7 linked regions of the Homo sapiens genome follow. The protein of the gene in region 4 purifies or fractionates together with the protein of the main gene of each other region. This does not show direct contact. Each region holds a gene or a part of one and is shown on either strand. Other genes may lie near its edges.

Region 1 (4,292 bases), on a different chromosome or scaffold from region 4:
GAGATGGGGTTTTGCCATGTTGGCCAGGCTGGTCTTGAACTGGCCTCAAGGGCTGCCTTGGCCTCCCAAAATGCTACGATTACACACATGAGCCACCATGCCCGGCCCTCTCACTGTTATAAACCTCTTCTCTCTTCATGTATAATTTCCACACTTGATTTTCCTTATAATTTTACCATAGCTTTGTAACTCTAAGCAATACACTTAGATTTACACATTTTGGAACTCTGCAAATATACCACTGTGCATTTAGGTTTTTGCTGTACTATTCCTGATGGTCACTGGGTTGTTTCTAGCTTTTTCCTAATATAAGCAATACTGTTATAAGTTTTTTTTTTCTTTTTCTTTTTTTTTTGAAGAGGCAGGGTCTCACTCTGTTGTCCAGGCTAGAGTACAGTGGCGTGATCACATAGCACTGCGTTCACTGAAGCCTCAAACCCAGGGGCCCTGTGCTCAAGAAATCCTCCTGCCTCAGCCTCCCGAGTAGTTAGGACTACAGGTATGTGCCACAGTCCCTGGCTAGTTCTATTTGTTATTTTTGTAGAGACAAGGGTCTTACTATGTTGCCCAGGCTGGTCTTGAACTTTGGGCCTCAAGTGATCCTCCCACTTTGGCCTCCCAGAGTGCTGGGATCATAGGTGTGAGCCACTGCATGCACTCAGCCTTGTGATGGGCATTCTTAATGAATTCATGCATACAGGCAAACATCTCTCTAGGGCTGAGCTGCCCAACCTCATTATGGCACACTGGTGGGCAGAGAATGGCCGACAGTCTACTTTGTCCTTTCGGAATGGCCAACCAGGGCCAGAAAGGCCCAAGCTCCTGTGTCTCGGGCCTCAGGCCTCTGGCAGCAAATAACTGCATTCATTTCCTCCAGTGCATCACAAAAATACCAGTTTCTTTGTGCGTCATATGTGTAAAAGCCTGGGAAGCTTTCTCAGAAACACACCCAGAGTGGAACTGTCACAGGGTGAGCATCATGAGTCTTAGCAGGCAAGGCCAAAGTGGTCTTGCCTACATACGCTGTATAAAAACATTCTGGTTAATACTTCTTCAAAGTCCGAGCCGCCAACCCATTTGGCTGGAGGGATCAGGTGCAGGCTGCCACCCTAAGTTCATCTGTTGACTCATGACGTCAGGCAGGTATGCAGGTGGCAGGACATGTGACCAGCAGCATTCCTGGCTCTACAGCTCACCTGCGACAGAGCACCTTCACCAGGGTCAGTCCTGTGGCCATCCCTGAAGGGCTCTCTTTGGCCACTGGATCCCAAGGACTTGTCAAAGACTCCCAATAGTCCTCTCCCCAAACCCCATTCACATCAGCCCCACCACGCACCTTCATAGCCTTGAAGAGCCTTTCAGCAAAATATTCCGGGGTGCTCCGGATACACTTCACTGTGAAGAGGGAGGAAGAGGTAGAGTTATTCTGGCTGCCTCAGAAGGGGGATGGGATGGCCTGACTCCCTCTTTGTTTCTATTCCTTGAGGGCCACCTAGCTCAATACAGGAAGAACCACCGTTCCTGATAGCTCACAGCCCCAGATCACCCCAGACCAACCCACTTTTACCGCACACCCAGGGAATAAACAGGAAATAATCTTGTTGAAATAATCCTTTTGAAGTCCATCACAAAGACCGCCTTTATCTTTCTAGTCCTTTTGGTTTTAACAGGGAATTGAGCTGGGGTGGGGGTAGGGTCTGGGGCGAAGGAGGAAAAGGTGTTTTTTAGACCTGCTACACCAGAAAGGTACTGGCAGCTGAATCATTGTGAATCCCACTGAATCACCGTGAGTCCCACTGGCTGACTACTTCAAACAGGGAGGGCAGGGGATGGCTCTGGGAGGGACGATAAAGGAGCTGCAGGTTTCCCCCAAGAAATACAAACACACAACATATCCCTGACTCAGACATGCTAACTGCTGGAATGCCAGAATTGGAAGGGCTTCTGGGGAGGCAATTAAGGCAGTCCATCCTTCCTGCCCCCACACCCTGCACCCCACTTAACAGATGAGGAAACTGAGGTCCAGCAAGCAGAAGTGACTTGCTCCAAGCCCATGTGGGAGAAGCCCTGGTTTGAATCTTGGCTCCACCACTGACTAGCCAGTTCCTCACATCCTCACGTTCTCAGTACCCCCAACTCATTACAAAACTACCCCTCAGGAAATGATCAGCCTGGTGAGACTCAGTTTCCTCATCTGTGAAATAGAGATCATGGCAGTGGCCACTGCTGGGTCTTTTTTAAAGATTACACACTCAGCACAGTGCCTGGCATGCACTAGATGCTCAACAAAAGTCAACTATTATGATCATCATTATCCTCAACCCAAGTTCAGAGCTCTTTGTCCCCCTGCCAGTGGTGGAGAAGGGAGCTGGAGGAAGTCAGTACCTGAGGCTCAAACCCCCTTCCCGTCCCCAGCCTCAGCCATGCTGCCCTGGAGAAACCTTTAGAATTCACGGCCCACATGGTTTTCTCCTTCCCAATTCTATACCATGTAATTCCCCTTTCCATTCTCAGCCCCTTGTTCCTAGGCCAGTGTTCCAGAATCCCCTAAAGCCCCCAGGAATGCAACGTCAGGACATACCTACGGCCAGCATTAGCTTCTCAAAGTCCCCAGACAGCTCCCCTCGGATGCTGGCTTCAATCGGCTTCCCTGTGGTCTTCAGATACTCATCGAACACTGCGTCAGACAGAGAGACAGGGAGGTTTGAGAGTGCCTCTGTACCCCCGAGAAGAAATGAGGACTTCAAGAGCAGGGGGGCACAGTGGCCAGGACGACTGTCCACCATGAAGCTAGGGCTGGTGCTATGATGGAGGCGACTGGGAGGTCACGCACATCACCAGCGCTGTGCAGATGAGCTTCATAGCTGGTGAGAGACTGTGTCTCATCCCCTAACATGGAGACAGGACTGGCACTGAGATGGAAGGCCAAGCATCCTGTTAATGACTTTGCTGAGGGACTATACAAACTGCTGTCTGATATTAGGTTGGTGCAAAAGTAATTGCGGTTTTTGCCATTCCTTTAAAAACGGCAAAAACCGCAGTTACTTTTGCACCAACCTAATAAACTCAGGACTAAAGTTTGGGTTGGGAATGAAGTAGGTATCATGTTCCATTAGTGGTAAAGAAAAGAAAAGAGATAAAGAAAGGCATTATTGGCATCAACCCAAGGGAGCAGCTTCAGGTCTTCTCTGGAGCTTACCCAACCGAAGATGCTGCTTGCTGCGATTTCCCAAGATGTAAATGAACTGGGCTTCATCTGTTCCCCATTTCAGTTCCCCTGCCTCGTATAGGTCCTGAAGGGGAAGAGGTGGCACTTGACTGAAAGAGGAAACCTCAGGAGACAGGACACACTGACCAAGCCACTCAGAACTGCTGCCTGATCCCTGAACACACGAGTAATTGGTAGCCTGAAGACCTTTGCAAATAAAACAGTCATGCATCATTTAATGATGGGGATACATTCTGAGAACTGCCATTGTTAGGCGACTTTGCCATTGTGTGATCATAGAGCACTCGCACACACCTAGATGGCATAGCCTACTACACACCCAGACTCCGTGGTATAGCCTATTGCTCCTAGGCGGCACACCTACCTGTTCAGCGTGTTATCTTACCGAATACTGTAGGCAACTGCAACACAATGGCAAGAATTTGTGTATCCAAACATAAATAATCATAGAAAAGGCACAGTGAAAATATGGGGTTATAATCTTATAGGACTAGCATCACATATCTGGTCCATAATCTTATGGGACTAGCATCATATATGTGGTCCATCATTAACCAAAACACCATTATGTGGTACATGACTATACCTATATGCCTTTCTTCCTTTCTTTCTGGAGAAACTCCTACTCAACCTTCAAGGCCCAGATTAAGTATTCCATTTTTTTCTCAAAGTACTTCCCGATGCCCCCAGGCACAGTTCTATTTCCCTCCTTTCCTCCCTCTCCTAGGCTCCCATAGCTTTCTACTTCTTTATCACTTTGATCTACTGTATATGATAATGATTTCTTCACCTGTCTATCTCCACACTATTGCATGAGCTCCTCAACAACAGGGACTATGTCATAGCATTCTCTGTATCAGCCCCTGTAGTGCTGCTGGCATGTACTGGGTACTCAAAACACCTGCAATGTACAGTATATTGATAGAGAAGGTGTTTGTGTGATTAATGTATGCCTGTCTCTCCCGGTACCACTTGATTTTGTTCATTAGTGATTTCTAAATGCTTGGCAGAGTGCCTAGCACATGCTAGGTATTTTACTTCAATAATATCTAAAAACTGAATG
Region 2 (4,292 bases), on a different chromosome or scaffold from region 4:
TTAGTCTTAAGAGTCAACAGAAAGGCCCCCACACCCTTATCCCACCTTCCAGACACTGAGACATCAGCCCGCCTCCTGCATGGGTACAGGTGAATTGAGGAGCCTTCCAATCCAAAGCCACCGGGTTTCTTGCTTCTGTCTCTTTCTTCTTTAGAGAGAAGACAGTAGGTTTGTCTTTGGAAAGACAGAGGTATGACATACTTGATTTGTACATATGTGATTTCCTTTAGATTCGGTGCTCTCCTGGGGACCTTACCTGTACAGCATGGTAAGTAGATACACATCTGCACCCTCTGGGCAAACAGCCCAGCAGATCTCTTCTGGCTGTGACCCCAGGAAAAGAGATGCTGGATGAGTTTGCCTATGTGGTTGACACTGCTTTTTAGGGACTAGTCATCCACATAGAGTTGGAGACCCAAAGCAAGAGCTCGCCTCAGGGACAAATTGAAAGAAAATCAGCACACATCACTTTTTTCCAGATATAAGAAACACATTTTTCCAATGCCCTAAATTTTTATTACAAAAATTTTCAAATATGCAGAAATGTTGAAAGATCACGGTGAATACCTACTTAGGTTCAGTTAACAATTTGCTGTGTTTCATCCAATAAACATGTGGCTTGTAACAATACACTTTGATATGTGAGCTCCCGTTCTCCTTCCTTCCCCTCTTTCTCCTACCCCTCCCTAACTGCAGCAATACCAGATTGACGTTCCCAAGTAAAGTGGGTCTTTTTGCTCTTGGTTTGCATTCCAGTCTCTTCTCGAAGACAAAGGTCTGGCAGAGGTGTCTAAGGTTGCAGAGCAAGTACTGAATGCCGTAAATAAGGGGCTCTACAGAGAGGCCACAGAGCTGTGGGGGAAAGCAGAAATGATCATTGAACAGGTAAAAAGGGGAAACACTCAGAGGCGAGCCTGCTTGGCTTTTTCTGGTGGGTACAGGGCCCATGGTTGGTGTTGTCAAACTTGGAGTCTACACTGAGGCTCCCCACATATCTGCAAATGATTGCATGCTGGATAATAAATCTCTTGGGTCTAAGCAGTGATGTAGTGGCTCCTTACAGAGTCAGAAAGCCACCCAGGCCTGCAAGACTTGCTTGTCCTTCACTAAATGTATGGATTCTATTAAAAAAAAAAAAAAAAAAGACTGTCTTGCAGAGGTGAGTGTGTGGAGAAAACACATTCCCTTATTGGGACCCTTGCCAAGCAACATTCTGACTCCAGAGAGCCAGAAGGAAAGAATGCGTAGGCTAAGGACTTGGGAGTGTAGGCCCCTCTGCAGCTCTGTTCTCCCTGTAAATTAACACCTAGGCCCTTGGTTTTTTCCCTGCAGGGCCTGATCACTGCTCATATGAGATGCTCACCACTCCAGGGAGAGTGGGCTGACACAGCTGGTTTCTGAGACTTCAGAGCTGCATTTCTTTCTTTATTTTATTTTTTACTTTTTCTTTTTTCCTCTATTTATTTATTTATTTATTTATTTTTGAGACACTCGCCCAGGCTGGAGTGCAATGGCACAGTCTTGGCTCACTGCAACCTCTGCCTCCTGGGCTCAAGTGATTCCCCTGCCTCAGCCTCCCGAGTAGCTGAGATAATTGGCACGCACCACCGCACCCAGCTAATTTTTGTATTTTTAGTAGAGAAGGGGTTTCACCGTGTTGCCCAGGCTGGTCTTGAACTCCTGACCTTAGGTGATCCACCCACCTCAGCCTCCCAAAGTGCTGGGATTATAGGCGTGAGCCACCGCGCCTGGCCTCTTTTTCCTTTCTTTCTTTTTTATTTTTTTTTGAGACTAAGTCTGGCTCTGTCACCCACACTGTAGTGCAGTGGCCCGATCTCGGCTCACTGCAACCTCTGCCTCCTGGGTTCAAGTGATTCTCATGCCTCAGCCTCCAGAGTAGTTGGGACTACAGGTGAGCACCACCACGCCCGGCTGATTTTTGTGTTTTCAGTAGAGAGGGGTTTCACCATGTTGACCAGGCCGGTCTCGAACTCCTGGGCTCAAGTGATCCACCCACCTCAGCCTCCCGAAGTGCTGGGATTACAGACATGAGCCACCAGGCCCAGCCAAAGCTCTATTTCTTTCTGATCCAAGCAGATATACAAAATTAAACCTGTCCTTGGATAAGATAAAGAGCCATGTGTCCTTCTGTTTGGCAGCTTTGATGATAGGAAAATGAAACAAACAGCCAAATAAACTTTTATATTTCAGAACACAGATGGGGTGAACTTCTATAACATCTTAACTAAAAGCACTCCCACGTCTACAATGGAGTCGAGTCTAGAATTCACACAGAGCCACCTAGGTGAGTGAACCTTGAAGTTATTAAAGTCCCTGCCTCAGCCTCCATGCAAAAAGAAACCTGTTTATTAAAAAAAAAAAAAACTTTATTAACATATAATTTGCATACCATAAAATTAACTCACTGTAAGTGGTTTTCAGTATATTCCCAGAGTTGTGCAGTCATCACTACAATCCAGTTATGGAGCATTTCTGTCACCCCAAGGAGATCCCACGTGTCTGCTTGCAGACAGTTCTCATTCCCACTCCCAGCCACAGGCAACCACTCATCTGCCTTCTGTCTCTCTAGATTTTCCTTTTCTGAACATTTTATATAAATACAATCGCACAATAGTTAGTCTTTTGCACTGGCTTCTGTCACATAGCATGATGTTTTTGAAGTTTAGAAACCAGCTTCCATACACCAAATTACAACATCAGTTCAAGACTGAATTTAGTCATCTTTCAGCCAACCAAGAAGCATATAAAGGCTGCAGGATACCCTAGGTTCCACTTTCTAGATGATTCTCTTTGGCCGTTCTGGAGAATCCCAATGGCCCCCAAGTCTATAGAATGTATAATCAATACTATTAGGTTGGTGCAAAAGTAACTGTGGTTTTTGACAGGTTTCAAGAATTATTAACTCACAACTAATGAAGCATTATTTCCCTTCCCACCCAGTTCCCTACCAACCCCTTATTTTGAACCAATTTTGACAAATCTATTTTTTCCCTTTTTTTTTTTAAGAGATAAGGTTTCACTCTGTTGCCCAGGCCAGAGTGCCATTGAATTTGAGAAATTCTGCCATTACTTTTAATGGCAAAAACCGCAGTTACTTGTGCACCAACCTAATAATAAAGCCTCTCCACTTTCAATGTGTTTCTGACTTCCTTCCTCCCGCTGGGGGTGAATCAAGGTGACGCTTTTCCTTTTCCAGCTGAATCTGAAACCCTCCCTCTTGCTGTGCAGCATCCCCAGCAGCTTGGTAAAGATGTCCTCATGGCCAGGCGTGGTGGCTCACACCTGTAATCCCACCACTTGGGAGGCTGAGGCGGGTGGATCATGAGGACAAGAGATCGAGACCATCCTGGCCAACATGGTGAAACCCTGTCTCTACTAAAAATACAAAAATGAGCTGGGCATGGTGGCGGGTGCCTGTAGTTCCAGCTACTCGGGAGGCTGAGGCAGGAAAATCGCTTGAACCCAGGAGGCGGAGGTTTCAGTGAGCCGAGATCGTGCCACTGCACTCCAGCCTGGAGACAGAGAGAGATTCTGTCTCAAAAAAAAAAAAAAAAGATGTCCTCTTGGCCTTACTTCCAGCCCTTTGACTCACTATCTACCAGTTTGGTTTTAGTTTGTCTTTGTCAGCGCCACGTGAGACACCTACAACGAGATGCCTTAAGCCAGCTCATGAATGGCCCCATCAGAAAGAAGCTCAAAATTATTCCTGAGGATCAATCCTGGGGAGGTACTTATATGACCTAATTAAGTGCCGTTTGTACAGTTATGGGGAGAAAAGAGGTGCAAATTCAGAGACCTGAATTTGTAGGGTGGGTTTTGTTGTTGGTGATGATAGGTTATAGGTAAACAATATTACTATCCACGTTTTGTAGGTGAGCAAATAGATACAGAGACAGTAAATGACTTGTCAGGGCTGGATGCAGTGGCTCACGCCTATAATCCCACCACTGTGGGAGACTGAGTTGAGAGGATTGCTTGAGGCCACAATTAAGCAACATAGTAAAGCCCCATCTCTTTAAAAAAATAGAAAAATTAGCTGGGCATGGTGGCATGTGGCATATAGTTCTAACTACTTGGGAGGCTGAGGTGGGAGGATTGCTTGAACCCAGGAGTTTGAGGGTACAGTGAGCTATGATTATGCCACTGCTCTCCAGCCTGGGCAGCAGAGAGAAACCCTGTTTCTTAAAAAGGGGAAAAAAAAGACATCAAAATTGATTCAAAATAAGGAGTTGGTAGGGAGCTGAGTGGGGAGGGAAATAATGTGTAATTGG
Region 3 (4,292 bases), on a different chromosome or scaffold from region 4:
AATTGGTATCCTAGTTTGGATTTTGGAACAGAAAAAGGACATTAGGGAAAAGCTAGTGAAATATGAATAAAGTGTGGTTTAGTTAATAGTAACGTACCAATGTTGGTTCTTTGGTTGTGACAAATGTACTGCAGGAATATCAAATGTTAATGTTAGGGAATCCAGCTGGGCATGGTGGCTCATGCTGGTAATCCCAGCACTTCGGAGGCCAAGGTGGGAGGATCACTTAAGCCCAGGATTGCAAGAGCAGCCTAGGCAACACAGTGAGACCTTGTCTCTACAAAACATATTTTTTTGAGACAGAGTCTCACTCTGTCGCCCAGGCTGGAGTGCAGTGGCGTGATCTCGACTCATTGCAACCTCCACCTTCTGGTTCAAGCGATTCTTGTGCCTCAGCCTCCCAAGTAGCCGGGATTACAGGCGTGCACCACTGCACCCGGCTAATTTTGGTACTGCTAATAGAGATGGGGTTTCACCATGTTGCCCAGGCTGGTCTTGAATTCCTGGGCTCAAGGGATCTGCCTGCCTTGGCCTCCCAAAGTGCTGGGATTACAGGTGTGAACCACTACACCCAACCCAACCATATATATATATATATTTTTTTTTTTTTTTTTTTTTTTTTTTTTTTTGATTAGCTGAGCTTGGTGGCCCAGCTCCTCAGGAGGCTGAGGTGGGAAGATCCTCTGAGAACGGGAGGTCGAGGCTACAGTCCAGCCTGGGCAACAGAGCAAGACCCTGTCTCACAAACAAACAAACAAACAAACAAACAAAAACAATAGGGAATCTGGGTACAGGAATATAGGAACTCTCTGTACTATCTTTACAACTTTATTGTAAATCTAAAGCTATTCTAAAATAAAAAGTTAGTTTTTTTTTTTTAATGGCCTCCCTATGCTATGATATTTGGGGGAATAACGTCTATACCTTACAAACAGAAAGGAACTTTTGTGGCTACCAAAAACATACTGAAAAACTTTAATCATGTCCAACCAATCCTCCCAAATCCTCACCCCAAATCCACATGAATTCCAACAGGCTGTTAAAATCATACAACTCTCTAAATTTCGGAAATTTCTTACTTTGACTCATGAAGTTCTCTTAAACCAAAATCTTTAAGGTAATTAAAAAATATCGCCAGTAGCCAAACATTTACATGTTGCAACTGTAAGACAGCCAGTCCTGCCTCAGCAAATTAAAAGTGGACTGGACCAAATGTCACCAGGAGTAAAAGCATAGCAATTACAGATCTATGCATATTTAAGGAATATAAACAAATCACATATAAATATATGTATCCACACACCTTCGTATATCTATATGCCTACACATAGTCCTACACACACATTTGCACATGATACATATACAAATATATATATATTTAAATATAAAAAGTTGATCATAGCCAATGGCTTCCTCAAGCAAGAGTTTAAGAGATCAGATTCAAGTATAAATATTTTGTCTACTTTCTTAAGAATTGTCATAGCTGGGATTTGACCTTAGATTTCATACTCAAAAGACTTTTCACATCACCCAGCCCATAGCAAATTACTATAGGGATTTGGAATAATTAAAATTTGAAACTGTAAATGCGATGTTTAAAAAATTTGGTAGTCAATTAGAGTCACAAAATAGGCATGATCTGTTTGGGAGAAAGTCTGGAAGGGGACCTGGGGCATCGTTATTTCACTCCCAAGTGTTTCTGAGGAAATCCGATGACCACAGCTATAGTAAGGCCTGGCTCCAATGTCAACTCACTTACAACAGAGGTCTGTGATGTGACTCCCCCAGGTTACAAAGATCCCCTTTATAGCACAAGCCTCAGTAGGCATTAGAATCTGAGTGCAAATCTCAATTTCACTAATTTCGATTACATGAACTTAGGTAAATATCTCCATATGCAATTTCCTTATCTGTAACACAGCAAGAAAAATAGTATCTACATCATAGGGGTATTTCAAGGATTAAATGGGCTTCATATAATCAATCAATAAATGTATTAGGCTATTCTGATGTCCCTCATATATTAAACACTACACTCTAAAACTTAGCATATGTTAAAAAACTTACCCTCTAATGAGGATAAATATTTACAATTAAGATCCCTTTAGAAACCTATAAATATATTTATAGGAATGCTAACATTGCATAACTTGTTATGTTAACATAATATGCAGAATAAGGAAAGTGAATCATAAAGTGATTTATAAAGTAGATTTCCAGATGTTACCAAGACCTTACCAAATCACTAAGACAAGATTGTTCCTGGAAAAACAGATCAGGGACTTTTTAATTTAGGCTGTGAAATAATACTTATTGGCTCTTATTTTTACAACATATTCACCTATTGTGAACATTGATGTCACTGGCATAAGGTTACAACCCTAGCTTATCAGTTAAGGTATGAGTTTTCTAAATCCCCAAGGGACGCCAGCTGTCTCCACCCACCCCAGGGGTGAGGACTGAAGGATTTCTTAAGACTGTGCCTCAGACTGGGGTGAAGGTGAAGCTAGACAAGCCCAGGACCACAATGACATTTGAATCTACATTGGGATTCCCTTGGTTAGCTAAATGCAAGAAAAAAAATTCAAAATTCAGATCATAGCTCCTACTCTCAAACACAGTTTATTTATAGGTAGCTCTAATGTATTCAGAAGGAGCAAAAAAGGATACAATGCTTTAGGTATTATTCTGGAATGTTAATTTTTTTTTAAGTGACACACATCAAACCAATGGGGTAGAGACAATACAACCACCTCAGGATCCAGCTGTCTCCTCTCTGAGCATTAGCTCATCTACCCCCTCTTCCTGCCACGCTCCTGAGGCAAAGGTTTTGTAATCAAAAACCACTACCTTCAAACTATCAAGCCAAAGGCGAACAAGGTTCCTTTCCTCCTGCCTTCCCTCCCTTCCCACCATGAACCTGTCAGTCTCTTCTAGCTATAAAATGTTCATGCCCCTGTTTAAAATAATAATAATAGTAATAAACTTCCAAGAAAATGAAAGCTGGAGCAAAATGCCCTGCCAGTTAACCATCTTGGGAAAAGGTCAAAATAACCTTCCCTGGAACGCCCTTATCTTCTGGCCACAGAAAGCTGCCAAAGCCTTCCCTGCTATGTACAGAAGTAAAATCCCCTCACTGGCATCCTTCTTACACTGTCCATTTCCTCCTCTCTTCTCTGCAGGCTCTGTCTTTCCTGGCCACAGGCTGGAAAATGCACTGGTGGTAGCATGATACAACATTTATGTAAATTTCCATAGTTAAATGTTTCCTTTACCTAAAACTTACAAAATACCTTTTGAAAAATTAAAACTTTTAAGTCATAAAAATGACGTAAATCCCCACTACATAATCCTCTCATTTATATTCTTTCCCGTGTCTCAAAATTCATCAGATCTCAAGCATTTGGCAAAGCTGCAGACATACAAACCAAGCATGAAACATGAGCTATGCCTTCATCTACCTGAGCTGTCGGCAGACATTGTTACTTTGACAGAATATTTAAGAAAAGAAGTCACCAAAAACTTACCACAGCCTAATACTGGCAATGGGGGGTCTTAAAGATCAGTTCTCATAGAACCACTAACAAGCACGGGTGCAGTGTGGCAAAGGCAGCCACTGTGTTTCACAAGGTCATCAGCCACAGCTGTCAGAATAAGCACGAAGGCAACTCATACCACGGCGCAAATGAAGAATACATTCTAGACTAACAGTACGTGAGCCAGGGCCACAGAGGCTCCAGGGCCCAAGTGTGGAGAAATAATAAATCACTATTTACGCAATGAACTACATGTGGCCAAACTTGTGCTCTTTGTCCCTGCCTTCAAGAAGGGGCCAACCATCCCCAGTAACATGGACTCACCGATAGGCCACCTTGAGTCTTCCTAAGTGACAAGCATTTATTCCAAAGAACAAGGAGCAGCACCAAGACAAATGAACAAACAAGAGCTCAAGTTTGTGACTTGTTTTCCAGACTGCTCAATTCTCATTAAACATGCAAGCAGTAGTGCTGTGTTCGGCTGTAAGTGACGCTCTGCATATGCCTGGCTAGCTCCTCCACACGCATTTGTGGAGGAGCTAGCCAGGCATATGCGGAGACTTGCCATGTAACCTGCAGCAAGTTACTCACCTCCACCTCCCTATGTTCTTCTGCACTTCCTCAAAGTGAAAGTTCATTTATTAGGTAAGGAACAAGAATTGAATCCAAGTTTGCATTCACTGTGCCAGGCATTTAAAGCTGCCACTCACATGTTGTGGAATGAACTGTATGGTCTCTTACAGCCATAAAACATCC
Region 4 (4,292 bases):
TTCCTGGGTTCAAGTGATCCTCCTGTCTCAGCCTCCCAAAGTGCTGGGATTACAGGTGTGAGCCACTGCACCCAGCCTTTTTTTTGAGACTGGGTCTTTCTCTGCTGCCCAGGCTAGGGTGCAATGACACAATCATAGCTCACTGTAACCTCCAACTCCGGGGCTCAAGCAAGCCTCCCACCTTGTTCTCCCAAAGTGCTGAGTTTACAGGCGTGAGCCATCATGCCTAGCCTGTTCTTTTTAAAAAAATCCACACTGCTCTCCACTGTGACGCCGCCCTGCCCATGCCCCTGACTACACTTCTCCCCTCTCCTCCCGCTCCCCTTCCCCAGGTGGACCTCCTGCGCTCTGCTCACCTGCACCCGCTACTCCTTCTGGCGGGAACTCTTCCTCCCTTTTCACCTGGCTGCTGCCTCCTTTCCTTCAGATGCTCCCAGCCTCCAGGTGCTTCCTCTGGGCTCACACAGCCCCCTGTGTTCCCTCACTCCTGCCTTGGTCACGCCGCCCGTTTCCCCACCGCGACTGACACTGCCCCACGCTTCGAAGCGCACAGGCCGCGTGCCTCTGGCTTCTGCTTCCTCCCTCGCTGGACAGATCACTCCGCCTGCGCCTCCCACTTCCCTCCACAAACACTCTGGGCCGTCAGTGTCGGCAGATGGTTCCGTCACCTCCAGGGACTGAGATCGTTTCGAGTCCCCCCCAACCCCGCGCCCCTAGGCAGAGCGTGGTCTCCGAGGCTCCACTGTGCCCCCAACATTTCCTCCCGGCCTTGGAGCCCTGGAGCCCGGGACCGGGCCCGCGAGCCACGCACCTACATACATGACGGTGCCCCGGCGAGGGGATTGTCCCGCCGCCCGCACCTCACAGCGGCTGCCCACGGGGATGGAGCTGGCCTGGGCCTTCTCCTCGGCCAGGCGCTGGGCGGCCTCGGCCTCCTGCTGAGCCCGCTCCTCCTCGTTGTACCGGCCGAGCTTGCTGCGCTTCAGGAAAGAGCGGACCGTGTCTGTGGGCAGAGGGGGCTGGGGTCAGTTGGGGTGTCGGCCGGGCCTAACAGGATGACGCTCCACCCACGAGGGGCCCACGTTCACGGAGGAACTCTCTCTTCCAGGTGACAAAGGGCTGTCACCCAAGCCCCAGGTCTCCCACCACAGCCTTAGCCTCTCCCAGGACTCCTAGGCCCCCCAACTCCACAATCGTAAATGGAAGGGGTGCCGCCTGCACCCCTCACTACAGGACCCATGGTCTCTCACCCCTTCAGCGCACATCTGCCTTCATCATCCGCCTTCCTCCTCCGCCCTCCTCCGGCCCTGAGGCCCCCGGTCTCCCCCAACACTCGATCCGTCCCAGGCGCCCTCACTGACCGCCACCCTGTCCACTCGCATTCCACCTGTCCTGCCCTCCACACCCCGTCCGACCGCCCCATGCCCCCATCTGACCCTGACAACACCCAGCCCCCACACCTACCCCTCAACTCCCTCCACTTTCCCAGCCCTCCCCCGACCACGTCTGACTGCCCATACCCCTGACACCTCCCGGCCCTCATTCCCACCCCAGGCCTCCGTCTGTCCCCACTCCCAGCCTCACCCCTATATCCTCCCAAGCTCTCGGCCCCCCGTCTACACCACTGGCCTCCCTGCAGGGGCCCTGTCTAACCTGCCCGCCCTCATACCTGCACATACTCCCTCTGGCCCCCACGCACCCCTCGACGCCCACCTGCCCGTACCTTGCCTCTGGTCGTAGGCTTCTTGTGAGATCGTGTACTTCTCCACCCGGGACACGTCCTCATACTCACCAAGGCGGGCGCCACTGTGGTCAATGACCTGTGTGAGGGGAGGGGCTCCGTGGGGATCAGGGTCTGGCCAGGGAGGCCTGGGTGCTGGGTGCAGGGACTTCAGTGTCTCCATCTGGGAAAAACGCATCTCCCTCCCTCGCCTGTACTGCAGCCTTCTCTTCTCTCCTGAGCCCAGCGGAAGGGAGAAGTAGCTACGTACACTGGCCACCTCCCCTTCCTCACCCCCATCCAAGCTCCCAGAGGCTGCCTCTGTCCCCAGAAGTTCCCCGCTTGCTGGCATCAACATCGCCAAGGGCCCCAAAGTCACAGAGTCCAACCGGCAGAGCTCAGGCCTTGCCCACAGCCCTGTGCACAGCGCATCTCCTCGATGGGCCTCTGGGACTCTCCTAAGCTGGCCCCAACCTCAGGCCCCAGAGCATCTCTTCCTGTTCTGCCCCCACTATTCATTCATTCATTGGTTTCCGAGCTCCCAGGGGCCCAGCTGGGCCTCATGCTGGGGACTCAGTGTAAACACAGACGCACTCTGCCCTCAGGCTGTGCTCATTGTGCAGGGAGAAGGCCAACCACAAACAAAGGAACAGGTACCTATGAAACACTGGAGGATGGCTATGGAGAAAAATATGACAGGGAAGAGGCTTAAGGAGCATGGGAGGGTAGGCTTCCCAAAAGAGGGGATGTTTCAGCCAAGGCTGGAAAGATGAGCAAGAACGGCAGGTGCAGACGGCCAGAGGTAGAAATGTCCTTCACGCTCTAGAGTGGGTGGTGCGGGTGGGGTGGAGCGAGCCAGAGGGAGAGTGGAAGACACAAGGGACTGCTGGAGACTTTGGGTTTTTTTTTTTTTTTTGACGGAGTCTCGCTCTGTCACCCAGGCTGGAGTGTGGTGGTGTGATCTCAGCTCACGGAAACCTCTGCCTCACTGCAAATTCAAGTGATTCTCCTGCCTCAGCCTCCCGGGCAGCTGAAACTATAGGCACACACCACCACACCCGGCTAATTTTTGTATTTTTAAGTAGAGACGACATTTTGCCATGCTGGTCAGGCTGGTCTAGAACTCCTGACCTCAAGTGATCTTCCCACCTCAGCCTCCCAATGTACTGGGTGGGATTACAGGCACGATCCACCGCACCTGGCCTAGACTTTGGTTTTTATCTGGAGCGAAGTGCCACCAGGGCAGGGCTCTGAGCTAGGAGGGCCCTGGCCTGACTCAGGTGGTCCCAGGCTCCCTCTGGCTGAGATGGGGAGCGGGGAGGCCAGGGAGGAAGCTGCCGGGATGGCGAGGTTGGGGGAAGGATGGAGGCTGGACCAGGGTCAGGGAAGTTTTTGTAGGTGGAGCCGAGAGGATTTGATGAGAGTGGATGTGGGGGTGAGGGAGAGAGCGGGCCCAAGGAACACCCTGAGGTGTCTGGCCTAAGCCACTGGGCTAACATGGCAAAATAGGAATGGCCTTTACCTCCGGATGAAGCGTCACTGAGAATTTCTGTTGAGAATTTTCACAAATTTGAAGTTCTGTTATTTTAAACAATGAATATGGGTGATATTTATAAAGAGAAAAAGAATTTTAGAAAATGTAAAAATTCCCCAGTGGCTCCACTCTGGAACACCTTCCTTGAGTGGCCTGGGAGGTCTGTGTGTACCTGAACCGCCTGTTATGAAACCTGCTCAAAGATGCCACTGCCTATGAGGTGCCTATGAACACCCGCACCCCTTAGCTTCAGCTGCCCAGGGTGGCCCAAAGGCTCAGTCCTGTGCACCCAGCAGAGGCCTGACCCACAGCTCCAGACCTCGTCCCCTCATCAGGACTCTCACAGCAGCCCCTTCCTGGTCTCCCTACTCTTCCTGTCCTCCACCACCTGTTCCCCACACACAGCCAGAGGGGGCCTGTGAACACCTGAGCCAGGTCAGGGTCCTCCCCAGCTTCCACAGTGTTTGGCCACAGAAGTGGCCTGTCTTAATCCCCACCGCGCTCCCTCCCACCTTGGAGTGTTTGCTGGGTTGTGCCCCACTCCTAGGGCACCCCTTCCCCATCTTCAGTTAACCTTTTTTTTTTTTTTTTTTTTAAAGATAGGATCTCACTCTATCATCCAAACTGGAGTGCAGTGGTGTGATCTCAGCTCACTGCAACTTCCAGCTCCTGGGTTCAAGTGATCCTCCTGCCTCAGCCTCCTGAGTAGCTAGGATTACAGGCATCTGCCACCACGCCCAGCTAATTTCTGTATTTTTAGGAGAGACGGGGTTTCACCGTCTCGAACTCCTGACCTTAAGTGATCTGTCCACCTCAGCCTCCCAAGGCACTGGGATTACAGGCGTGAACCACCATGCCCGACCAATTCTTTTTATTCTTCTCGTCTCTGCTCCAGCAGCACCACCTCCAGGATGTCCTCCCAGACGTCACTGATGCATCAGGTACCCCAGGATAGGGTCTCCCAGCTTCATGATCTCCTACACAACCCTTGTCTCCCCTGACCCTTCACATTCAGTCCTCTGGCCATTTAGCCAACAT
Region 5 (3,678 bases), on a different chromosome or scaffold from region 4:
CTCAAAGGAGTTAAATGTATTCTTGGCTAAAGGATCAGCTGGTTCAGTACTGTCTATCAAAGGTAGATTTTACAGAGAACAGAAATCGGGGAAGTGGGGGGAACGCCTCTGTTCAGTTCATTCCCAGAAGTCCACAGGACGCACAGCCCAGGCCACAGCCAGGGCTCCACGGGGCGCCCTTGTCTCAGTCATTGCTGTTGTATGTTCGTGCTGGAGTTTTGTTGGTGTGAAAATACACTTATTTCAGCCAAAACATACCATTTCTACACCTCAATCCTCCATTTGCTGTACTCTTTGCTAGTACCAAAAGTAGACTGATTACACTGAGGTGAGGCTACAAGGGGTGTGTAACCGTGTAACACGTGAAGGCAATGCTCACCTCTTCTTTACCAGAACGGTTCTTTGACCAGCACATTAACTTCTGGACTGCCGGCTCTAGTACCTTTTCAGTAAAGTGGTTCTCTGCCTTTTTACTATACAGCATACCACGCCACAGGGTTAGAACCAACGAAGAAAATAAAATGAGGGTGCCCAGCTTATAAGAATGGTGTTAGGGGGATGAGCATGCTGTTTATGAACGGAAATCATGATTTCCCTTGTAGAAAGTGAGGCTCAGATTAAATTTTAGAATATTTTCTAAATGTCTTTTTCACAATCATGTACTGGGAAGGCAATTTCATACTAAACTGATTAAATAATACATTTATAATCTACAACTGTTTGCACTTACAGCTTTTTTTGTAAATATAAACTATAATTTATTGTCTATTTTATATCTGTTTTGCTGTAACATTGAAGGAAAGACCAGACTTTTAAAAAAAAAGAGTTTATTTAGAAAGTATCATAGTGTAAACAAACAAATTGTACCACTTTGATTTTCTTGGAATACAAGACTCGTGATGCAAAGCTGAAGTTGTGTGTACAAGACTCTTGACAGTTGTGCTTCTCTAGGAGGTTGGGTTTTTTTAAAAAAAGAATTATCTGTGAACCATACGTGATTAATAAAGATTTCCTTTAAGGCAGAGGCTGGTCGAGATGCTGCTGTTATCTTCTGCCTCAGACAGACAGTATAAGTGGTCTTGTTTCTAAGATTCCTACCACCAGTTACTTTGGGCCAAGTATCCACATCCCCTTGCGTATGGGAGGTGGGTGAAGAGTGTTGGATGCAAAGTGGTTATTATGGGAAGTAGCTCGATGGTAAAAGGACAAACACCTATCTATCTTAGAGCTTAAGCCTGTATGTGCTTATTCCCAAGGGAGATAGAGGTGTTTAATCACAAGGACAGCATGAGTTAGAGGACACTGGCATCAACAGCTGCCACAGCCGTGCACACCAGGGCCAGAGCAGCCCACTGACATCTGTCTTTGGTCTTGAGATCAAATGCATCCCATTCTTCATACATTAGAAGGTCGACCTCCTTGAAGCAGACCAAGTATAGCAAGCCTCTAAAAGGACTACTGAGAAACAGAATCAGAAACTCTAGAACTCTAGTTAGGGCCCTTCAGCAGGGCTGCAGAGCCTCCCTGGATACCCAGGCCTGGGAAAGCCTGTCTGGTCTTGTCACCCCAGGTGACAAATACAACTGGAATCTTTCAATGAGTTAATGAGATACTGAGAATGAGCCTCGTGGAATTTTCCATGCCTACCCTTTCTAAGGAAGACATCCAACAGTTCATGTGGGCTCTGGCTTCGTGTTAACATGAGGAACTAAAGACATGTTTCACCCCGTGAGAAACAGAAGGATCCCCTGAACAGTAACTGATTTGACAAGTATCGACACATAAAGTTATGGCATCAGCATTCTCTTACTCAGGCACGGTCAGAAGTAACGCTGCTTTCATCACGGCTAACCTCTCACACTGAGAGAAGTATTCACAGCAACAGAAGCTCCAGCAGCGGCCGTGAAGGTATCTTCCAGAGGTGTGGGTTTTTGCATTTCAATCTGCTCCATGCTACGGACCAACACAGTATTGAGTCAACTGTGACCTTAAGATCAGAGGAACGTCAATACTGCCACAAGGCCACCTTTCCAGAACTCGTGGGCAGGTAAACTATGCTTTGGATGTGCTTTCTTTCACCAAAATCACTCAACTCAGGAGCCACAAATAGTCCAGCAATTTCATTTCCCTCAACGCTATTTTAGTCTCAAAGGAAACCATGTAAATTTCATCAAGAGAAGGTCAAAGGGGATATATCGCCACTGAAAATGTTTACACAGTGACCATGAGTTACACATTTACTTAGAGAAACTTAACTTAATAAAGAATCTGTAGAGTGTGTTGGCTTGGAAAACACACACACAAAGAAGATACCTCACGCTTAGTATGTTCTGCTTTCTGAACAGCCACCACTGGGAACCCAGTGGCCTCTGTGGGACTGAACTCCTAAACGCAGGGTGCGGGAGCTGGGCAGGAGAGGTGACCTCCAACTGTGTTCCTAAAGTTCGTCTTTCGCTTGGCTCAGGACAAAGCGGTGTAACGAGTCAAGGTCTCTGCCTCCACTGTGCTCACTGACTTTCTTCCCTCCTCGGAAAAGCAATAACGTGGGGTAGCCTCGTACCTTAAAACAAAAAAGAAAAAAGTTTGCAAACCAGCGGTCCAGATCACATGCAAATTGCTTCCTAAATAAAACCAGATACACTCCTACCGTTGTGGCTGGAAAAATTCTGTGGCTAATTTTTAAAGGTGTATATTCCATTAAAACAGGAGCAGACTACTGTTTAGAAAGCACAGCCGTGGGGCTGTGTGTTCACTTCTGAATTCAAAATGACATCATTAAAGATCAGCCTCAAAGGAACGACTTTACCCTAAAGCAGACGCTTTCAGTCTTTACTGTGCACACGATCACCTGCGGATCTGCTGAAGGTGCAGATTTGGATTGAGCAGGCCTGGGAGTCTGCATTTCCAATGACCTCCCTGGCGATGCCCTGGTGGTCTGCAGACCAGACCATGAGAGCAAGATCCTCTTGAGGATACATGTTTCAGTGGCAACTCGTTTCTAAGAATTTTAGGGCACAAAAAACAACTGGTATCTTTTAATGATAAGGAAACTATGTCTGGGTTACGTCTATTCTCCATCTAAAGGGCTCCAAAAGTGTCTGAATAACAAAGAAGAAAAAAAATGACAAATCTTCCAGGCCATCAGACTGTGCTAACAGCTTGGAATGAAGGCAGTAGTTAACCCAAGCACAGGACCGACTTGCTGGCATGGCCCTTTCAGAAAGGAGGTTATGTTGAAATGATTCTTAGATTCAGCCACTGCATTTTATAATGCTGGCTTATGTGTGAAAAATGAGCGACTCGGGTATTTATGGCAAAGGCTACAGACCACTGGTCAATCATCAAGAGTCGCGGTGTGGGAAGCCCCACAGTCTATGGCGTGGGGTCTGTTACTTCACGGCCTTGTTACTCAGACAGCAAGGCCTGAAAACCTGCACTGAAACATGGATACTAACTACAAAGCGGGCGAAGAAGAATGCCTTCCCTTTGAGAGAGGATCTCTTTTGCTTCTCCAAACAAACAACTCAAAGGGACATAAAAACCACATTGTTGAGAAGATGAGAGCAGAGTGAGTTATCGTGGTTGAGGCACAGTTCCCTTGGGATCTGCCCCCATACTGAGAGCTCCCATAAGCATCCATCCAAGTACCCACCGAATACTTGCTGCAGATATTCCGTT
Region 6 (4,292 bases), on a different chromosome or scaffold from region 4:
CTTTTTAAGCACTGAGGACATAGCAGGGAACAAAACAGCAATAACCCTTCTGATTCCACTGGGCAAGAGAATGCCGTGGCAGTTTCACCCAGACTTCATGCGGCCCTCTGCACTTCCCACCGAGATGCCACCTGCATGAGTCCAGGCTCGCCTGCTGGGGGACAAAAGACCACGTAGCCTGGTCATCCCCGTGAGTGAGTGGCAGCACTCACTGCCTCAGGATTGATGGCTTCATGACTGCTGCTCCATCACCATCTCACTGAAACACATCCAAATCCTGTTCATCCTTCAAGGCCCACTAAGACACCACCTCCTCCATGCAGGCCTCCATGACTTCCACAGCATTTCCCCACTGCCTGTCCTATACCAGGTTCTGGGCTGGGATCAGGGGACACAGCTGGGGACAAGACATATTACCACCCACAAGAAGGCCACAGGCTAGAGGGGGAGGCAGCAGGGCACACTAGTTAGGAGCGAGACGTGGGTTAGACAGAGCTGAGGTTGAATGGTGCCTCCTCTGTGGACTGGCTGGCTGACCTTGTGAAAGTAGCTTCACCTCTCTGGGCCCAAGCCTGCCCATCCATCCAGGGGAGGTGCACATGCTTCCCTCAGGGGTTTAGGGTGGAGGCTCAGTGAGACTTTGTGGGCAAAGTGCCTGGCACATGGGCCTGGGATTCCTGACATAAGAGCCACTTGTGGCCTTGCCTCAGTGTCCCCAGCAGGCCGTGAGCCCCTTGAGAGACTGAACCGTGTCTCATTCACCACTGAGCACCCACAACAGCCCTGGCCCAGCATCTGACCACTTCCCCAGACACTAAGGTCCCAGAGGGCCACCCACAACTGCGACTGGGTGTCAGAAGGAGCAGTGTGAGTTTTATAAAAGGGTGTCCCACTGGACGTTGTCCTCTGTGATGTGCTCTTTCCCCCTCGCCTCCAGGCATCTCAGATTCACCCATTTCCACTGCTCTGTCATGCTGCACTGTGCACCTCCACCTGGTCAGCCATTCACCTGCCCATGGTGTTTTAAGGACTCCCACTTTGGGACTGCTTTGAGTACCTTGTGCATGTCCGTGGGTCACCTCTAAGGTATGCACCCAAGTAGTAGGGCTGCTGGATCCTAAGGCACATGCAGGTTCAACTCCACAAGTTGATGTCAACTTGTGACCCAATGCATGCCTCCATCTGCATCACAGGAGACAGCTGTCACTCCACAGCCTCGCCTACTTCTTGTTTTGTTTTTTGTGTGGTTTTGTTTTGTTTCATTTTTTTGAGACAAGGTCTCATTCTGTCACAAGGCTGGAGTACAGTGGTACAATCCTAGCTCACTGCAGCCTCCAACTCCTGAGCTCAAGCAGTCCTCCCTCCTCAGCCTCCCAACATCCTGGGATTACAGGCAGGTGCTCTGCCTTTGGGCCACTGGTTAGGCCATCAATGGAAAAGTCAGTAATTTATGGATTCCCTGGAAAATGTCGGTGTTTACTGTGAAGTACACATGACAAGCTGTCTCTGTAAAGTGGTCATCAATGCCTGATAGCATGTCTGCCTAGCCTAGGCCAGGTGGCTCGTACCTGTAATCCCAACACTCTGGGAAGCCGAGGTGGGCAGATCACTTGAGGTCAGGAGTTTGAGACCAGCCTGGCCAACATGGCAAAACCCCATCTCTACTTGAAATGCAAAAACTAGCCAGACGTGGTGGTGCATGCCTGTAATTCCAGCTACTCTGGAGGCTGAGGCATGAGAATCATTTGAACCCAGGGAGGCAGAGGTTGCAGTAAGCCAAGATCACGCCACTGTACTCCAGTCTAGGTGACAGAGTGAGACTCTGTCTCAAAAAAAAAAAAAAAAAAAAAAGAAAAGAAAAAGAAAATTACACTAGGTACTATCTGATACACAGAAAAAATATATAACATATTCTAAGTTATGAAGCATGATAATAAAATGAACATCCAAACTAAAACCTAGAATGGTACTGATACCATTGAGCATCCCCTAAGCCCCTGCCTCCTCTATCCCTAGAGGCACCCACCACCCTAAATGCGGTAGCTATCATTCCCTTTCATTCAGTCATTTATATTGAGATATAGTCAGCATACCATAAAATTCACATTTAAAAATGTACAATTTGGCCAGGCACAGTGGCTCACACCTGTAATCCCAGCACTTTGGGAGGCCGAGGTGGGCGGATCACTTGAGGTCAGGAGTTTGAGACCAGCCTGGCCAACAGGGCGAAATCCCACCTCTACTAAAAATACAAAAATTAGGTGGGCATGGTTGTGCACATCTGTAATCCCAGCTAGTCGGAAGGCTGAGGCAGGAAAATCACTTGAACCTGGGAAGCAGAGGTTGCAGTGAGCCGAGATCACACCACTGCACTCCAGCCTGGGTGACAGAGCAAGACTCTGTCTCAAAAAAAAAAAAAGTACAATTCATGGTTTTTAATGTATTCATAAGGTTGTGCAACTATCACCACTCTCTAACTCCAGAACATTTTCATCATCCCAGAAAGAAACCCCATACCCATCAGCAGTCACTCCCCACTCCCCACTCCCCCCAAGTCCCTGGCACCACTAGTTGGCTTTCTGTCTCTGTAGATTTGCTTATTCTGAACATTTTATATAAACAGAATCATACAGTATGTGCCCTTTTGTGACTGGTTTTTTTCGTTTAGCATGTTTTCAAGGTTCTTTCATGTTCTGGTGTGCGTCAGTCCTTTATTCCCGTTTATAGCTGAATAATGTTGCATTGTATGATAGATCACGTTGTATGTATCCATTCATCAGCAGCTGGGCATTCGAGTTGTGCCTACTCCCTTACTTTTGTTAAGCTAGTTTTACTGCATGTGATGAGTCCCTGAACAACATACTATTTTGCTTTACTTGTTATTGAGCTTTATAAGAAGTCAGACAATATCAGAAGTGGGTGAGAGCCAGGTGCAGTGGCCGGCCCCTAGTGTAATTTTCTAAAGAATGCATGTCCACTTTTTCTCCCCAGATAGATGAAGGGCTGTGGCAGGAGTTGGGGGCCTACTCTGCACACATCTCAAAAGCACACTGGGGAACATGCTTGTGGGGCTGGGGCAGGGTGGGAGCCCCATGTCCCCACCTTGGCCCTTACCTCCTCCGACACAGCAGCCTCCACCACACCGGCTGCATAGGCCTGCAAGCTGTCATTGTATTGGCCACTTGTGCCCAGCTCCAGGAAGGCCCACCTGGAGGGGAAGGAGGGGACACTCAGTCAGCAGCAGAGGCCCCCAGCTAGACACATGGCATCTCCAGGCTTAAACTATGAAAACAACACAGTGGTCAGTAGACGTGCACGTGAATGTCTGTCTGTCCATCTTTGTGAGCTTGCCGGATTAAATCCCTCCAAGAGGAACTACTGGCTCAAAGGGTACACGTATTTTTAATTTTCATAGATATTGACAAACAGCCTCCCCCAAAAATGCAGAACATATCTATATTCCCTTACCCACAATAACACCAGCTAACAACATCCATTGAGGATGACATGTTAGCTCTGTGCCACGCCATGTTCTAGTCACTTTCATGTCTATTAACTCATTGAGTCCCCTATAATCCTACAAGGTGGGCACGTCCCCATCTTGTCCCTCTTGCAGAAGAGGAGGAAATTAAAACACAGACTTATGTCACATGCCATCCCCACCCCCATGTCCATGCCCTTTGCCACGAGACTACAGTCCTCCACCAATGGCCAAGTATCCTTCCCTGCTCCTTCATTTGGGCTTGGTTGTGTCACGTGACCTGCTTTGGCCAATGGGATATGGGTGGAAGTGACAGCATGCTAGTTATAAGATTAGCCTTCAGGAAGCCTCACTTGCCCCTTTGTGCCTCTGCCATCACCATGGGAAGAACAAGCCCCGGCCAGCCCACTGGTCCCAGGGATATGAGAGCCACACAAGCACACCAGGTCTGTAGAGCTGCAGCATGAAGTAGAGCTGCCCCAGCAGCCCCACGGATCCATGAGAATCAATGTTGTTGGTTTAAGCTGCTGGATTGGGGCTGGTTTATCACACAGCACTGCTGCCCAATACTAGCGGATACATGTGAAAGGTCACAGAGTTGGCAGGGGCAGGATTCACTTCCAGGCAGGCTGGCTCCCACTCCTCTGAAGGAGCACTTCTCAACCTCTGATGTATATATGCAGGTTACCTGAAGGCCTGGTTAGAAGGCAGGTTCTGATCAGTTCTGCAATGGGGTCTGAGATTCTTGTTTTTTTTTTTTCCTGAGACAGAGTCTGGCTGTTTCCCAGGCTGGGGGGTACTGGCATGATCT
Region 7 (4,292 bases), on a different chromosome or scaffold from region 4:
GAGAAGAATGAAAATTTAGTATAACTTTAGAGTCTTTTGAAAAGACCTTTTGATTTGGACCCTTCTGAAATCCCCTTGTGATAAGATAATCTTACATATTCTGGGTTGTAGTCTGAGGACGTGGAAGGCTTGGGTTCACCTGCCCAACGAGGTCACTTGTCGTCTCCTGATGGACAAGCCCAGTGTTTTGGGGCATTAGAGATGAGAATCAGGGTTATTTCCTCACTTTTGCCAATTGGAACTCAGGAGCGACTGCAGAGCACCTACTGTGTACCTGGCACTGTTCTAAGCTCTTAGGTATGTCAGCTTATTAACATTCAAATCAGCCCCATGAGGTGAAGACTGATTGTTATTAGCATCCCTGTTTAACTGAGGCCCAGGGGTAACTTGCCCAAGGTCTCCAGCTTTTCTGTACGAGCTGGGAATCGAAGCCATGCATTTGGCTTTAGAGCACCATGCTCTTGAGCACATACTTGCCTGTCTCTGGGGAATGTGAGCGGGCTCCTGGCCCGGGCCTCTGCCCACTCCTGGCTGCTGGTAGCACCCCCACCCATCATGACCACAGATGGAACTAGCTCTTCTGTTGGTTTGATCAGTGGCACCAGTACCCTCTGGCTACTCCAGCTGAGAGTCCTGGATTCATTTTCATCAACTCTCTAACTCTGTCAACTGGTCTCTTGGTTACTTTGGAGGCCTGCTAAGGGTGTCCCTAAAACTCTTTCTGGAGCCAGACTGGATCATTTCAGGAGCTCTCTACAGCTCTTAATTGCCTCCCGCTTCTACCCCCCAGCTTAGCCTCATCTTCCTCTCCATCCTTTCATTCCTCTGTCCTGCCTGTTCACACTAGGTCCTTTTGCCCTTGTCTTTTTTTTTTTTTTTTTTTTTTGAGACACAGTTTCACTCTGTCACCAGGCTGGAGTGCAGTGGCGCTATCTCTGCTTAGTGCAACCTCTGCCTCCCAGGTTCAAGCGATTCTCCTGCCTCAGCCTCCTGAGTAGTTGGGATTACAGGCGTGCGCCACCATGCCCAGCTATTTTTTGTATTTTTAGTAGAGACAGGGTTTCACCATGTTGGCCAGGATGGTCTCGATCTCCTTACCTTGTGATCCACCTGCCTCAGCCTCCCGTAGTGTTGGGATTACAGGCGTGAGCCACCGCACGAGGCCTGCCCTTGCCATTTTTGTGGCCCTGAACTCTGCTTGGCTTCTTTCCACTTAACCCCTTCCAGCTCAAATGCAGTTTACTGTCTTAATTTTCTTTCTGCTTCCTTCTCCCCCTCCTGTGTGCCAACATTAGTGTGTTTGAACCTTGCATGACATTTGTTTCATTCCACCATCTGTTAGAGTTGATGGTTTTCAGTTTGGGTTCCTTCCTCAGGGCAGGGAGAATCTTGGCTGTTAGGTTTGTCGCTGCAGTTCCTGGCCACTGGTGAGGTGCTCAGTGAGTACAAGAGTAAAGGAGGAGACCTTTCTGGAGAAAGAAGCTAAACCAGGGCTGCAGGAAGTGGAGGAGCTGGGCAGGGCCAGCTAGTCTTAGGCTAAAGGGATGGTATATGGGTGGACACTTGGAGGGGTAGTTCGCAGTTATCTCTTCATCCAAAGCATGACCTGAGGCCAAAGCATGACCTGAGGCCGGTCCTGAGGAGGGAGAGAGAAAGGGAGGAGAGTTTCCTGTCCTTCAGCAATCAAGACTGTGTGTCCTGCCTATGGAGAGATGGAAGATTCTTTCTATTTTTTTTTTTTTTTTTTTGAGACGGAGTCTCGCTCTGTCGCCCAGGCTGGAGTGCAGTGGCGCAATCTCAGCTCACTGCAAACTCCACCTCCCGGGTTCACGCCATTCTCCTGCCTCAGCCTCCCGAGTAGCTGGGACTACAGGCGCCTGCCACCATGCCCGGGTATTTTTTTGTATTTTTAGTAGAGACGAGGTTTCACCGTGTTATCCAGGATGGTCTCAATCTCCTGACCTCGTGATCTGCCTGACTCCGCCTCCCAAAGTGGTGGGATTACAGGAGTGAGCCACCGCGCCTGGCTGATTCTTTCTATTGATTGAGATAAGTTAGTATACAAGATGCAGGATTTTGTCATTTAAGAATGGAGAATCAGGGTTAACCATAGAGATAAAATGAAGTATATACTCCTTTCTCTGACCATTGACCAAATTGTTTTAATACGCATAGACTGGTGACATTTGCACTGGAATCCTGTAATAGACATAGCTCATGTAGATTCCTTGTTGTATGAGCAAGGGGTGACCTTCAATGCTGGGCTTGAGAGGAATATCTTGGAAGCGAAAAGATTGAACAGAGACCCCAAGAGTCAAGAAAGCCAAGAATTTTAATGTTTTTTTAAGAACCTACAGTGAGTGCAAGGCCCTCTGAGTGTGATATGGGAGACAGAAACCCAGATACTTTTCAGTTGTCTAGAGAGATATGGCTGCTAGGTCAAAAGAGTGAATTACCATGGGTGGGGCTGGAGTTAGAGCCTCAAGGAACCTTGGCACATTTTGGACACCTACCACGTGCCATTAGTCCGCACGTATGGGATTAGAGTATCAAGAGTAAATTGCTGATTGAAACCTTAATAATATTATTTTTGTCTATGTTAATTTTGATTGGACAAACTGACATTGACAGGTACAATTCACTCCATTTGTTCAATATGTAACATCTTGGTAACCTAACTCTGTCCCTTTCTCTGCTCAGAAGACAACTGATGGTAGTTAGGAATACTTTGTAGCTTTTGTTAACCATCCGTTTGTTTTATATTGCCAAACTTACATTTCAGAGAGAGCTAAGAAGCACTTTTTCCTCTACCTTTGAATGAATTAACTCCCCTGAGCTCAGCCAAAGTCAATTTTTTTTTTTTTTTGTGAGACAGAGTTTCGCTCTGTCACCAGGCTGGAGTGCAGTGGCACAATCTTGGCTCACTGCAACCTCCACCTCCTGGGTTCAAGTGATTCTCCTACCTCAGTCTCCCAAGTAGCTGGGACTACAGGTGCGCACCACCATGCCCAGCTAATTTTTTTTTAGTAGAGATGGGGTTTCACCATGTTGACCAGGATGGTCTCGATCTCTTGACCTCGTGATCTGCCCACTTTGGCCTCCCAAAGTGCTGGGATTACAGGCGTGAGCCACTGCGCCTGGCCTTTTTTTTTTTTTTTTTTTTTTGAGATGGAGTCTCACTCTGTCGCCCAGGCTGGAGTACAGTGGCGTGATCTCAGCTCACTGCAACCTCGGCCTCCTGGGTTCCTGCCGTTCGCCTGCCTCAGCCTCCCGAGTAGCTGGGACTACAGGCGCCCACCACCATGTCCGGTTAATTTTTTTATATCTTTAGTAGAGATGGGGTTTTTCACTGTGTTAGCCAGGATGGTCTTATCTCCTGACCTCATGATCCACCTGCCTAGGCCTCCCAAAGTACTGGGATTACTTTGGCGTGAGCCACCGCGCCAGGCATTTTTTTTTTTTTTTTAAACATCACTTTTCAAAGTTGAACTTTTCCAGTACTCTGGGGAGTTTGGGGCAATTGGAGGTCCTTTTCCAAGGGGGGAATCAGAGCAACACAAACCACAGTTGGCAATGGGAGTAAGGAGATCTGATGAACTGAAAGAACTTGGAGCCCCAGAAAACTGGCTTCCTTTGTTCAGATACTTCCGGTTTAAAAGACCACATCTTGATAAGACGTTCCTCATTATCATCGTTGAGCTTTGAAGTCAGCAGGTTTGGTTTGTTTTCCAACACTGTACGTAGTCTGTCTTTGCCTTTTCAAAGCTGTGGGGGTTATGCCGGGCGCGGTGGCTCACGCCTGTAATCCCAGCACTTTGAGAGGCCAAGGCGGGCGGATCACGAGGTCAGGATATCAAGACCATCCTGGCTAACACGGTGAAACCCCGTCTCTACTAAAAATACAAAAAAAAAAAAAAAAAATTAGCCGGGCGTGGTGGCAGGCACCTGTAGTCCCAGCTACTTGGGAGGCTGAGGCAGGAGAATCAGTTGAGCCCGGGAGGTGGAGCTTGCAGTGAGCTGAGATCGCACCAATGCACTCCAGCCTGGGCGACAGAGCAAGACTCTGTCTCAAAAAAAAAAAAAAAAAAAAAAAAAAGCTGTGGGGGTTGGGATGTGGCAAATTAAATCCCCATAGCTCACTGGACACGTCTTCATATCACACTCTGTGGATCACACACCATGCTTCCTTGTGCTGGAGTGGCTCTTTCTGCTTATCTTTAAAGCAGTTTTCTCAGCCTTGGTGCTATTGACATTTTGGGACAGATACGTTTTTTGTGAGGGGCTATCCCAGC

What was found.
Region 1: the proteins of TBCB (region 4) and ANXA6 fractionate together in Homo sapiens (co-fractionation; one large-scale study listed by BioGRID). This does not show direct contact.
Region 2: the proteins of TBCB (region 4) and SCPEP1 fractionate together in Homo sapiens (co-fractionation; one large-scale study listed by BioGRID). This does not show direct contact.
Region 3: the proteins of TBCB (region 4) and ISOC1 fractionate together in Homo sapiens (co-fractionation; one large-scale study listed by BioGRID). This does not show direct contact.
Region 5: the proteins of TBCB (region 4) and TXNDC5 fractionate together in Homo sapiens (co-fractionation; one large-scale study listed by BioGRID). This does not show direct contact.
Region 6: the proteins of TBCB (region 4) and PLBD2 fractionate together in Homo sapiens (co-fractionation; one large-scale study listed by BioGRID). This does not show direct contact.
Region 7: the proteins of TBCB (region 4) and HK2 fractionate together in Homo sapiens (co-fractionation; one large-scale study listed by BioGRID). This does not show direct contact.

The regions. Positions count from the first base shown.
Region 1 is NC_000005.10:151,129,895-151,134,186, forward strand, and holds part of ANXA6 (annexin A6), read right to left. Parts: intron 3,294-4,292; coding exon 3,200-3,293; intron 2,678-3,199; coding exon 2,582-2,677; intron 1,396-2,581; coding exon 1,337-1,395; intron 1-1,336. UniProt on the Homo sapiens protein: May associate with CD21. May regulate the release of Ca(2+) from intracellular stores.
Region 2 is NC_000017.11:56,994,751-56,999,042, forward strand, and holds part of SCPEP1 (retinoid-inducible serine carboxypeptidase precursor), read left to right. Parts: intron 1-230; coding exon 231-268; intron 269-756; coding exon 757-885; intron 886-2,211; coding exon 2,212-2,305; intron 2,306-3,217; coding exon of another isoform or gene 3,218-3,309; exon of another isoform or gene 3,310-3,634; coding exon 3,635-3,748; intron 3,749-4,292. UniProt on the Homo sapiens protein: May be involved in vascular wall and kidney homeostasis.
Region 3 is NC_000005.10:129,097,499-129,101,790, reverse strand, and holds part of ISOC1 (isochorismatase domain-containing protein 1), read right to left. Parts: intron 4,104-4,292; exon of another isoform or gene 4,025-4,103; intron 1-4,024.
Region 4 is NC_000019.10:36,118,238-36,122,529, reverse strand, and holds part of TBCB (tubulin-folding cofactor B), read right to left. Parts: intron 1,821-4,292; coding exon 1,724-1,820; intron 1,004-1,723; coding exon 812-1,003; exon of another isoform or gene 357-811; intron 1-356.
Region 5 is NC_000006.12:7,880,707-7,884,384, forward strand, and holds the end of TXNDC5 (thioredoxin domain-containing protein 5 isoform 1 precursor), read right to left. Parts: coding exon 3,653-3,678; intron 2,561-3,652; coding exon 2,438-2,560; 3' UTR 811-2,437; downstream 1-810. UniProt on the Homo sapiens protein: Protein disulfide isomerase of the endoplasmic reticulum lumen involved in the formation of disulfide bonds in proteins. Can reduce insulin disulfide bonds.
Region 6 is NC_000012.12:113,368,032-113,372,323, reverse strand, and holds part of PLBD2 (putative phospholipase B-like 2 isoform 1 precursor), read right to left. Parts: intron 3,209-4,292; coding exon 3,115-3,208; intron 1,254-3,114; exon of another isoform or gene 1,067-1,253; coding exon of another isoform or gene 1,058-1,066; intron 1-1,057. UniProt on the Homo sapiens protein: Putative phospholipase.
Region 7 is NC_000002.12:74,836,809-74,841,100, forward strand, and holds part of HK2 (hexokinase-2), read left to right. Parts: intron 1-4,292. UniProt on the Homo sapiens protein: Catalyzes the phosphorylation of hexose, such as D-glucose and D-fructose, to hexose 6-phosphate (D-glucose 6-phosphate and D-fructose 6-phosphate, respectively).